Linked DNA regions of Homo sapiens. The protein of the gene in region 3 purifies or fractionates together with the protein of the main gene of each other region. This does not show direct contact. Each region holds a gene or a part of one and is shown on either strand. Other genes may lie near its edges. The genes, in order: GRB10, CREB3L2 and SHANK2.

Region 1 (3,652 bases), on a different chromosome or scaffold from region 3:
AAATTCCCCGGTTTCCTTGTTCTGCTTACAAATTTGGACAATCCCTGGGGGTGGAGGCCAATTTTCTTGCCAAAGGCTGAGAGAGCCAGATAATATTTTCATGGTCTTATTTTAGAATGGGTAGCTCTGTAAACAACCTCAGTGACAAAACCCACAGACAGCTTGTCTGGATCCTTATTTGAAGCAGAAGGTCACCAGCGAGGTAGACATCCCAGATGCACTTTAGACATGTGACAAAGTGCACAAGCCCAGCCAGTGCTGGCTCCCAGATGAGGGACACTTACCTCACCTTCTAAGTTTTGATAGTGCCATAATGCAGCCTGCTCCGGGGGCCTGAGGTCAGAACGGGACCCACACTTGGGAGCCAGCGGGTATTGGAAAAAGGTCTCTCTCTCAAGAGGACAGACCTTGCATGGCACAGGACAGGCAGATTTGCAGAGAAAGGGATGGCTGGCCTGTCTTGCTTGAGAACAGCAAAGGTAGGGAAGTGAGAGCAAGTAGGGAGAAGAGATGATTCAAGTAGAAGGGCAAAATGACTTCTAAATATGCATTTAGCAGAAGGAAAGTCAAAGTCCCGGGAAGCCAATCAGCACAGTGGCTGCAATCACAGGCTCCGATTCTGAGGCCGGGTCACACTCAGCCGCACCATCAGGTCTCAGCCACACTCAGCTCAGCTGCTTACAGGGGCCTCCCTTCCCTCAACTGTGGAACAGAGGGAACATGCGTACTTAATTCATACGGGATGGCATGAGGAGTAAATGAACATATAAATAAACAAAAAATAAACATATCCACCACTTACGACAAGGCCTGGCACACAGAAATCCCTCACTCCATAAACATCAGATGGCGCAGTTGTTCTAATGATCACCTCCACCCCTAGGGGTCTTCCTCCAGAGGCTGCAGCCCATCCTGGCTCACAGCCCTGCCAACCGGTGGGGAGGAACTTTCAACCCCTTTCTCTGCCAGTTTCTCTGCTAAGCTGACTTGTTGGCTGTTTGACCTTGGACACATTACTGAAATGCTCTGTGCCTCAGTTTCCTCATATGGGGACAATGGTTGTGTCCTATCTACTTCATGGATCTACTTTAAGTAGAAACTACAAGTTCAAAAAGGAGGTTATTGCCCTGCGGGTCCAATGGAAACTCTTCTGCTTTCGGCAGATCATATTCAAAGTCAGGACTACAAGACAGAAACTCTTCAACTCCTGTGTACTGACATCCAGGTGCCCGGGTGAGCCCAGCATTTTCACACCTATTATTGAGCCAGTGGTGAAACTTTTTCAAAGAACTAAGATTCATCTTTAAACATCAAATCATTGTTATTATTTGCCATTTTTTATGAGACTTTTTCTAAAATATAAAGATAAAACAGAGTTTTGATCAATAATGAAAAGAGGTTTAATTGGTTCATGGTTCTGCAGCCTGTACAAGAATCATGGTGCGGGCATGTGCTCGGCTTCTGATGAGGACTTAGGAGCTTACAATCATGCCAGAAGGCAAAGCAGGAACTGGCGTCTCGCACAGCAGGAGTGGGAGCAAGGGGAGGAGATGACACGCACTTTTAAACAACCAGATCTCGTGAGAACTTACTATTGTGAGGACAGCACCAAGCCATGAGGAATCTACCCCTAAGATCCAATCACCTCCCACCAGGCCCTGCCTCCAAAATTGGGGATTACAATTCCACATGGGATTTGGAGGGGACAACATCCAAACTGTATCGGCCTCATAGGACAACAAGTACTGTGACAACAAGAAAAGAACTGAGAGAGAAGATCCCAGGACTTCCCGCCCTTCTTCCCAAAGTAATAATCTGGCACATCTGTGCAGATCCCAATAATCTGGCATATCCCTCAGCCTGGGCTCCAGCCAGGGGCACACTCACCTGCTTTGCGGCGGCCTGGCTCGGAGGTAAAGAACCCGGCGTGAGCACAGGGGGGCTCCCAGGGCCACAGAGTTCAGGAAAAGGATTGGGGATGGCCGGCAGAGATGAGGTTCTAAACTGCTGGTCTTCCTCCTGAAGGCGCCTGGAAGGCAGGGATAAGTGCCTGTTAAAAGCTGCCATTCCCCACATGACCCAGCCTTACCACTGTGGTGATACACCCAGAAAGCAGGACACAGGGCTTCTAGGAGTCACTGGCATGCCCACGTTCACAGTGGCATCCTTCACAAAAGCCAAAAAGTAGAGGCATCCCAAGGGTCTGCAGATGGATGAATGGATGAACAATATGTGGCATATCCATACCATGGAACACTACTCAGCCATGAAAAAGGAAGCACATTCTGACACAGGCTACGACACGGATGAACCCTGAAGACATTATGCAGAGTCAAACACACCAGTCACAAAACCAGAGACACTGTGTGATTTCACCCAGTGAGGTAGGTAGTGTATTCAAACCCATAGAAAATAGAAGGGTGGCTGCCAGGGGACTAAGGGGAGGGCAATGGGGAATCGCTGTTTATTGGGGACAGAGTTTCAGTTTCATAAGATGAGAAAGTTCTGGAGATTGTACAACCATTGTGAGTGTGCATTAATACTACCGAACTGTACCCTGAAAAAAACAGTTAATATGGTAAATTTTATGTTACATGTATTTTACTAAAACGAAAACTTTAAAAAAATTACAAGTTGTCATTCTCAGACCCAAAGGGTATTGGGTATCAATTCTCTTCTTCATTAGGCATCGGGGGCGGGGGGCGGGGTGCCGAAGTTTTGTTGTCCTGGGTGCGTGCTCATCTCAGGCAGCATTCAGTGCCTGACATGGCATCAGCTCCAAATACCTCATCCGTTTGATCAGTGAATACCTGATGTGTGAAAGTTTTCTGAATATGAGCATTTTCATGAGAACCAAGTGTTTTTCAATGTCCTTGAAATGAGCATTAATCTAATCAAATGAAAATACAAGAAAAGGCTGTGTGTTCTCATCTGAATTATGCAATGGATGGTTACTTATATAAAAAGGTTGTTGACACTGAATTAACTGGAAATTATAGCTTCATGTATCTGTCCTCGCAAAGCCTGTGTCCACATTAGAAACACACCTTGGAAACACACGCTGAATCCACACACCACCTCTACTTTCCTGGCACATCTCCAGGGGCATCTGTTCCCTCCTCCGAAAAATGCACAACCCACTTGTCACACAACTATGCAACACACACACAGTATGACGAATCAGAAGCAACTGTGAACAGCAGAGAAATCAAGTTCAAAGTCAAAGCGAATGTCAAGTGTCTGGCACCTCCCCTCTGTAGAGTAACTTCTGGCCCACACCTCCAGGGCACTCCTGGACACACAGCCTCCTCCACCCTTCCTGAGGCCACGCGGCCCTGTCTGCAGCCTCCTACCTTCAAGGAGAGGGGAGCAAACCTCACATTATCTTCACTCGGCATTTCCAATCCCTCCCCATGTTTAAACATACCTCAGAAACCCCCATCATAGGCTGTGTCCTCAAGTAATTTTTTTGACAATTTTTACGATTTCACAAAATCAACAATCCGTTAGCTTTCCCAGGAGATTTGCCACTACAGAAACACATTTTGTGACTGTATTACTTTTTCTCTTTTACCAACTTTCCCTATTTTTTAAAGGAAGATCCAGCTAACTATCCCACGTAGACCAGCAAATGATGCATGGATTTAAAATT
Region 2 (4,395 bases), on a different chromosome or scaffold from region 3:
CTCTGATCACTCAGTTCAATCCCATAGTTTGCTCTTCTTCCACCTTGTATTCTCTATCCCCCTCACCTTGTTCTACTTATACGTTTTCCATAACACTTATTTCATCCAACATAATCACTTCTTTATAATGTTTATTGTTTATGTTCCCCTACACACACACACACACACACACACACACACACACACACACGAATATAAGCTTCTAGAAGTCAGGGATTTTGTCTGCTTCTGTTCACTCATGTTTCCAAGTGCTTTATATATTCCACAAATATTAATCGAAAGAACAAATATCTCTCTGACTGAATGAATAATCAGGCCATCCTTTTTCTACATAAAGATTCAGCTAGAGTAACAAACAGCTCTGCCCCTGGATATCTAACAGAGTTCAGGAAACAGATGGGAAAATTATCTCCCCACCTCTCCCAAACGTCCCTTAGTTTGAGAGAAATATAACCCAATCATTTGTGCTGCTAAACCAATACCTCTTTCAACAGTAATTCATATGCACAGTTTGTTGCACTGACTTGCAGCAATGATGAGCAGCATTTTACAGGAATGAGCTGTTCACAACAGACATGTACCTAAGTGGAGGACATAATAAGCATTTTTTAAAAATAGAAATAAAAGAAAAATAATCACACATTCCTGCTTTATCACAATGACAGAAAAACTGGGCTGTTAATATCAAAGCAAATGTAAGGCCTCTACTCCCTGAAAGTGTGCATAAGGTGTTAGTTAGAGCCAGTCCAAGCAGTTCTTCCCAGAGTGAATGCCACAGTCACGGGTAGCATCTCGCACCTTTCCCTGTGAACTCACAAATGCAAGCTACAGGGCCAAAGAACAGCAAGGTAGATGCCTGTGCGTAATTCATCCCACCAGCTGAAAGACAACCCCCTAGCTGTGGCATTGCAGCTGCTGGATGAGACACTGTCACAGCGAAAGAATACTTCAAGAACAAAAGAGAAGGGCTGCCCCTCTGCATATGGATAAAATGTAGCCTGTCAGTAGAAACTCCTGGAGCACCCATTCATCAAAAGATATTTGAGGAACAACATACTCCAAGTTCTTTACTGAGGACAGGAAGCACATCTGGTACCCCAACCTCCGTGCTGCCCACATAGTGTCCCCATGACAAGCTCAGCAAGCAAAGCCCAGAAGATCACACTGAACATCTGGCTTTTGCCCCAGCATGAACTACCACTCCCTCTCAGCCCTGCACTCTGCATTTTTTTTAAACAAGCCACTCTCAGCCACCACAAATACTTCGGTGGGAATCAGCAGGGAGGCCCTCATTCCTTGTCTCAAAATAACGTCAGCCAGAGTCAAAGGCCAAAGAGGTGGAGCCTGCAGGCCATTTTGCGAAAGTTTCAAATATCTTGGTACTGACCCCATTAAAAAAGCGTGAAGGGGAAGCAGCCAAGCCTCCAGTGGTTTTCTCATTAGTGTCCCCCCTCACCCCAGCCCCACCCCCATTACAAACGTCTGCATGGATAAGAATCAAACAAAGAGATCTTGCATAAAGTCCTATGATCAGTGCTGGCTATTGAAAACAAAATTTCATTTTGCAAACTTAATACCAAAAACTTGACATTAAAAACTTTAAAAGAAATGTGCGTGCTCTGGGACAGCTTAATCCCCCAAGAGATCTCTGAGGCATTAGTATAAGACTGAACAAGCAACTGGTGAGCTGTCCCACCTTCCCCAGAGCCTTTCTTAAATATGCAACTGTCTCAGATTTTCCATACTCCTCTGCTGGTTTTTCCTCCGAAGAGGGAGGAAGGAGACTTCTTGGTCGTACAGTTTAAGAAAGCAAATAAAGCCGCCTTTCTCCCTAACGTAGAGGAGCCCTTTCAACACACACACACACACACACACACACACACACACACACACACACGTGTACTTTTTAAAATATAAATATGAAAGAAGAGGAAGGGAGGGAGAGAGGGAGAGAGAATACGAGACAGATGAAAAGGAAATGCTACTTAATCTTGTCCAGTTTTTGAAAACCTCAAAAAAAAATCAATAGCAAACTAGGCGGAGGCATGTTATTCTCAAAACACACACTCCCTCTCCCGCATTACAGTACTGTTAACAACAGCAAATGATATTACAGATGGAAAAAGCCTCAGGGAAAAAAGCATGAATTGTTAAAGGAATACAAAGTGGCATTACTCTCATGAGAAATGTAAAGGGGCCAGCTGCCCGCCTTCATCTGCTCAGACATTAAAGTACACCTCGCCCAGGACCTCTTGATTCTGACCATGCCCTGCCCCAAACCCTGCCTTCCCGGGTCCCAGGACTCCAGCTGCTCCTCGCGTGACAACACTTGCCCGCTTTGAAAGCCCTCCTGCCCCGCCCGCCGGGTCCTCACCGTGTGGTACATGAGGGCCTCGCCGTCCCCGGGCTCTGACAGCTCGCTCAGCTTGCGGTCCCACTGCAGCACGCCCTGCTCCCCGCTCTCCAGCACCTCCATGGCGGTGCGGGCCGCGCTGGGCCGAGGATGCTAAGCGCAGGAGGGGACGCGCAGAGCTGCCTCGGACCGGCAAGGTTCCTCTCTCTCCGCGTGTGCTTGCGTGTGTGCGCGCGCGTGTCTGTAGTTTTGCACTTGGAAAGCAAACGTCTGCTCCTCTGCCGGAGAGAGGATGGCCAAGCGCTCCCGTCCGGTGTCCTCGGAGATCCGAGAATCCCCAGGGACACGAGCCGGACCAAAGGCTGCCGGGGCTAAAGCGGGATGTGCATCCAAAATGAAGGCAGAAGACCCGCTCTCATCCCAGGAAAATCCCTTAGCCGCAAGCCCACTTGCCGCTACGGCTCCAGACACAAACTTTGAGGGACCCCAGGGCTCCTCGGCTCTGCTCCAGGACCCAGCTGCGGCCCCACCTCCCTCCAAGGCTTGACCAATTGGATATCCGCCTTGCCTAGCAGACCCAATCAGAAGTCTCATTCTCGGCTTTGTCCCGCCCCCAAAGGCAGAGGCCGCGGGAAGTCTCCGCCCACGCCTTGGAATGTAGCCGGGGAGTGTCTGTGACGTCACCGAGGAACTCCTCCTGCTTGAGCGCGGCCCGCTGTCTGCTGTCGCCTACAGCTGACCAATAGAGGGCTTGGGTCCGGAAGTGATGGACTGGAGGCTTGACTAATGTGAAAGGGGCGTCTGAAAGGTACAGCCAATGAAATAGCGACAAGAATACATTTTGTAAAAGAGGGAGGGTGAGTTCAGTCCTCTTGCTGAGAATCCTCAGAAATTTACCAGCGCGCCGACAGGGGGCGCGAGAGTTGTTGCGCGGGGGGCTTAAACATTTTCGAGTACTTTAGTTCATTTGAATCTCTCGGAATTTTTTTAATGGATTACATATTATACAAAAATACAAATATTCCTCATGCACATACATTTATATTAGTGCAGCTCTAGGAAATTGTCATTGTTCTTCACCTTTTTCGCCCATTTTCTGTTGGGTTCTTCTATTTTTTATGGACTTCACTTATTGTATGTTTTTCTTTCATCTGCTTGATAAGAGTCAATGGCATGCTTTTCCAGGTCCTACAGAAGTGAGCCCAGTCCTTGAATTCATAGAGCTTTTATCTCAGAGGAGTCAGGCAATAAACAAAGAAATAAACATTTAAATTCAGAAAGTGGAAATTGCTATAAAGAAAAATAAAAGCAGGAAAACAGGATGCGTCAAGATCGATGCTATTTTACGTGCTGATCAGGGAAGTTCTTCCTAAAGGAAATGAGATTTCGGGGGAAGCTGGTATTCACGTGATTGCTGGGGAGGCCAGTGTGGCTGCAGCAGAGGTGCTTGGCAGGGAGGGGTGGGAAAGGCCAGAAAGGTGAGCCAGGGCCAGAGCACCAGGCCTGCCTCCTAGAATAGGGAAGAGATGGCCTGTTCTAAAGGAATTCCCCCGAACACTGTGATTCTTCTTCCTCCTTTTTAATTCCAAAAATATAGTTTACCTATCTTAAATATAAAAGCAGGTCTTTGCCAGTTAGCTCTAGAAGTTTCTTACAATGGCACATTCAGGTATTAGCTATTGTGTTGTTTCCTTGGCAAGTATTTTTTGGCGGGTGGAGACAAATGTCTTTGAACTCTATGTTGTCTTTAAAGCAGCAGTTTATCATATAAACTATTGCATTTGTCTGGTCCTATCTTCTGGGGTCTTTTGAGATTTTTTTTTTTTTTTTTTTTTTTTTGAGACAGTCTCACTCAGTTACCCAGGCTAGAGTGCAGTGGCACGATCTCAGTTCACTGCAGCCTCCACCTCCTGGGCTCAAACAGTTCTCCTGCCTCAGCCTCCTGTGTAGCTTGGACCACAGATGTGCACCACCACACCCGGCTAATTTTTAAATTTTTTGTAGAGGCAAGATCTCACTTTGTTGCCTGGGCTGGCCTCAAA
Region 3 (2,764 bases):
TTGAGAGATTTGGGTTTTGTATACACAATATTACAGAAACTAGGCATGTAAATGCAGTTTATTTAAATTACAGTATGTAACAAAAGTTGATCTTAAAACCTGGAATAATATCAACATGATCTTTAGATGAGCAGTTTAACATTTGTTCCACCATTAAAGAGGGGCATGGAATAGGGCCTCGTCCTAACATGTCCCAAAGGGGGAGAACAGTGGGTGGTGATTTGAATGAGGAACTATTGCTTTCAGTACCAAAATAAGCAGATAGAGATAGAGACCGATTCATCTTGGCAACATGTGTTTATTTGTTGGTCAGTGCAGGTTCTGATAGGTCTATTACTTCTCTATAATAAGACAGTGTAAAAATAAACTATGTTATCAGCTCTTTAGTCTTGCAGCCAGCTTGCTTGTGGTTAGTGGCATGTGGCTTGGAGTATCTTTAAGAAAGGGAATAACATCTGGCCCTCACCAACTGGCTGCCAAAGTTCAACAAACCGAAGTCACGAGTTTCGACTGGTTATCGTCTGCCAGCGGTTTCCTTGACTCTCCTTTGAGCTAGTGTTTTGCCTGGCACTGAGCACAGAGGTAATACCAACTGTAGGCCCAGGGAAAGTGCCATGCCAAAGGAATGGACTCACGGAATTTTGCGGTATCATCAAATGGAAGACAAATTAATGGCCAAACCACCATTTTTACATTTTCTAAAATATGGGGCAGCCTCAGCAGGCCACCTGTAGTATCCTGTCTTGAAATTTATCTAGAGTAATGCTCATTCATCTCATGATGGAAAAACTGAAAGCACACGGAAGTAAAGCGCCTTAATATTCAATTGACTTCAAGTTGGATTGGATCATTTCAAATACAAAGATTGACCTGCAAAAGGTTTTGGAACAGAAGGTCCAAAAACTTGGTTCCAACATCAGGGGTGTGTGACTGGAAAAGCGCGTGTGTGTGGTGTGTGTTTTGTTTTTGTTTTTGGAGAAACTGCTGCATTATGAATTGTAACCACTTTGAAGAAATTGTCCTTCAATGACGAAGTTCTAGCAAAGATAGAAAATATAACACAGCTCTGCTGGTTCAGATGCATCCAAATAAGGTTGATTTAAAAAGGTCATACTTTTATAATTATTCCACAGAAATAGTATTATTAAATCACAAAAGTTTTTTTTTCTTTAACTTTCTAGCACTGAAGTGGCACAAAGGCTGCCTAGTAGACCAGCCACTTTTTTTTCTTAAAATATTGTGCTTATAAACTATCTGTACAACTATTTAAACTTGCAGTAAAGAAAGATTTTAAATTGCTAAATTTTATGTGTTCATTCTAGAGCTGTTCCAGACCTAATCAAGAAAAAAAGGAAAAAAAAAAAACAAAACCATGTTTTATAATTAGAGATGGGCTGAGCTAGTTCTGAAATAATAATAAAACCAAAAACCTGACATTCGAGTATCCTCCAAATGGGGGAGAATGTGCTGGAAGCCTGACTGTGTGTTTTGCGGCCCATGTGCATCTGGTGACCTCTTTTGGAAATTCGAGGTATTGTTATGGGGTGGAGGGACTCCGGGGAAAGAAAGGGGCGGGGCTCAAGAAAGCCTTGCCAGAGAGGCTGACCTGGCAGCCCAGGAGACCTCCCTGCTTTCCTCTCCTCACGCCTCTGCTTTCACTCTGATCCTGCCGCCCACCTTCTGTTCTCAACCCTGGGTTCTGTCTATACTCCATACCCACTGGGTCCTCAAAGAAGCTGTTGTACTGTTAAGACAAGCTGGTGGGATTCCTAGACACCCAGAGCGATAGGGGAAAAGCCTCTAAGTACCATCTTCCCTGGCCTCCGAGAGCAAAAGGACTGTCTCAGCAGAGATGCTCACCCTTGGCTGGGCACAGAACTGAGGATGCTGTGCCCGCCCAGCTCCCAGAGGAGACGCTGTCTCACTGGCAGCCGCATGTGCCCGCCATGAGCCATGCGTCTTCTTGTCCTTCATGTCAAAGTGGATGCTCACCTGCTCTGATCTTTGCAGAGCTCAAGACATCTTCAATTAAAAAGAATTCTGAGAGGCAGAGAAGCCCTTATTCTCCATCCTGGATGGGTGCTCATGGCAGACAACTGCTCTTGTCCTGGAGACCTGGAGCTTGGGCAGTTGCACGCTGGCTGGCTCCCTTGGCCAGGTCTCCCCTCCATTGTGGAATCGTGACTTTGTGCTTTGACTAACTCCATGTGACATCTGCTTGGCCACCTTGGAATTATGCTAACAGATTTGCAGAAATAAAGAAAGCTAAGCAAAGCTGGGCACGATCCCATCCAAACTCCCAGCACTGCCAGGAACCTCATGGCCAAAGAGCCATGGATGCAAACCACAGGAGGAGATGGGGAAAAGAATCTGTGTAGGAAAAAGTTTCTCTGCCTTTCAGGCCCATGATGGGGCACTGGACAAATGCATCTGGGAGCATCTCACTGCAAGCCAAGTGCAGGAGAAAGAGGGGCAGGTGAGCATCAGGTGTCCTCTGAGAGGCCACAGGACTGAGGAAAGGCCTCATGCCGGGGCCTGGGGTGGTGAGAGCTGCCCGGAAAGCAGAGGACGGAGGTCTCAGGAGGTATCTAGAGTGCACTGGTGTCTGCCTACAAGAGCTAGGATCCCGTGCAAAATTGACGGGGAGCCTCTCGGACCCGGCAAAGCGAGGCCACCTGCATGCTGGGCGGCAGGCTGAGAATCTTTTTCCATGTTAGAAAAACTCCCTCCCCTTGTCCCATGTGTGATAGAAACTGCCCAAGAC

Evidence for each region.
Region 1: the proteins of SHANK2 (region 3) and GRB10 purify together in Homo sapiens (affinity purification with western blotting, with the first as the bait; one study listed by BioGRID). This does not show direct contact.
Region 2: the proteins of SHANK2 (region 3) and CREB3L2 purify together in Homo sapiens (co-immunoprecipitation; one large-scale study listed by IntAct). This does not show direct contact.

Annotation. Positions count from the first base shown.
Region 1 is NC_000007.14:50,667,835-50,671,486, forward strand, and holds part of GRB10 (growth factor receptor-bound protein 10), read right to left. Parts: intron 2,030-3,652; coding exon 1,888-2,029; intron 1-1,887.
Region 2 is NC_000007.14:137,999,230-138,003,624, forward strand, and holds the start of CREB3L2 (cyclic AMP-responsive element-binding protein 3-like protein 2), read right to left. Parts: upstream 2,858-4,395; 5' UTR 2,477-2,857; coding exon 2,375-2,476; intron 1-2,374. UniProt on the Homo sapiens protein: Transcription factor involved in unfolded protein response (UPR).
Region 3 is NC_000011.10:70,469,912-70,472,675, forward strand, and holds part of SHANK2 (SH3 and multiple ankyrin repeat domains protein 2), read right to left. Parts: 3' UTR 1-2,764. UniProt on the Homo sapiens protein: Seems to be an adapter protein in the postsynaptic density (PSD) of excitatory synapses that interconnects receptors of the postsynaptic membrane including NMDA-type and metabotropic glutamate receptors, and the actin-based cytoskeleton.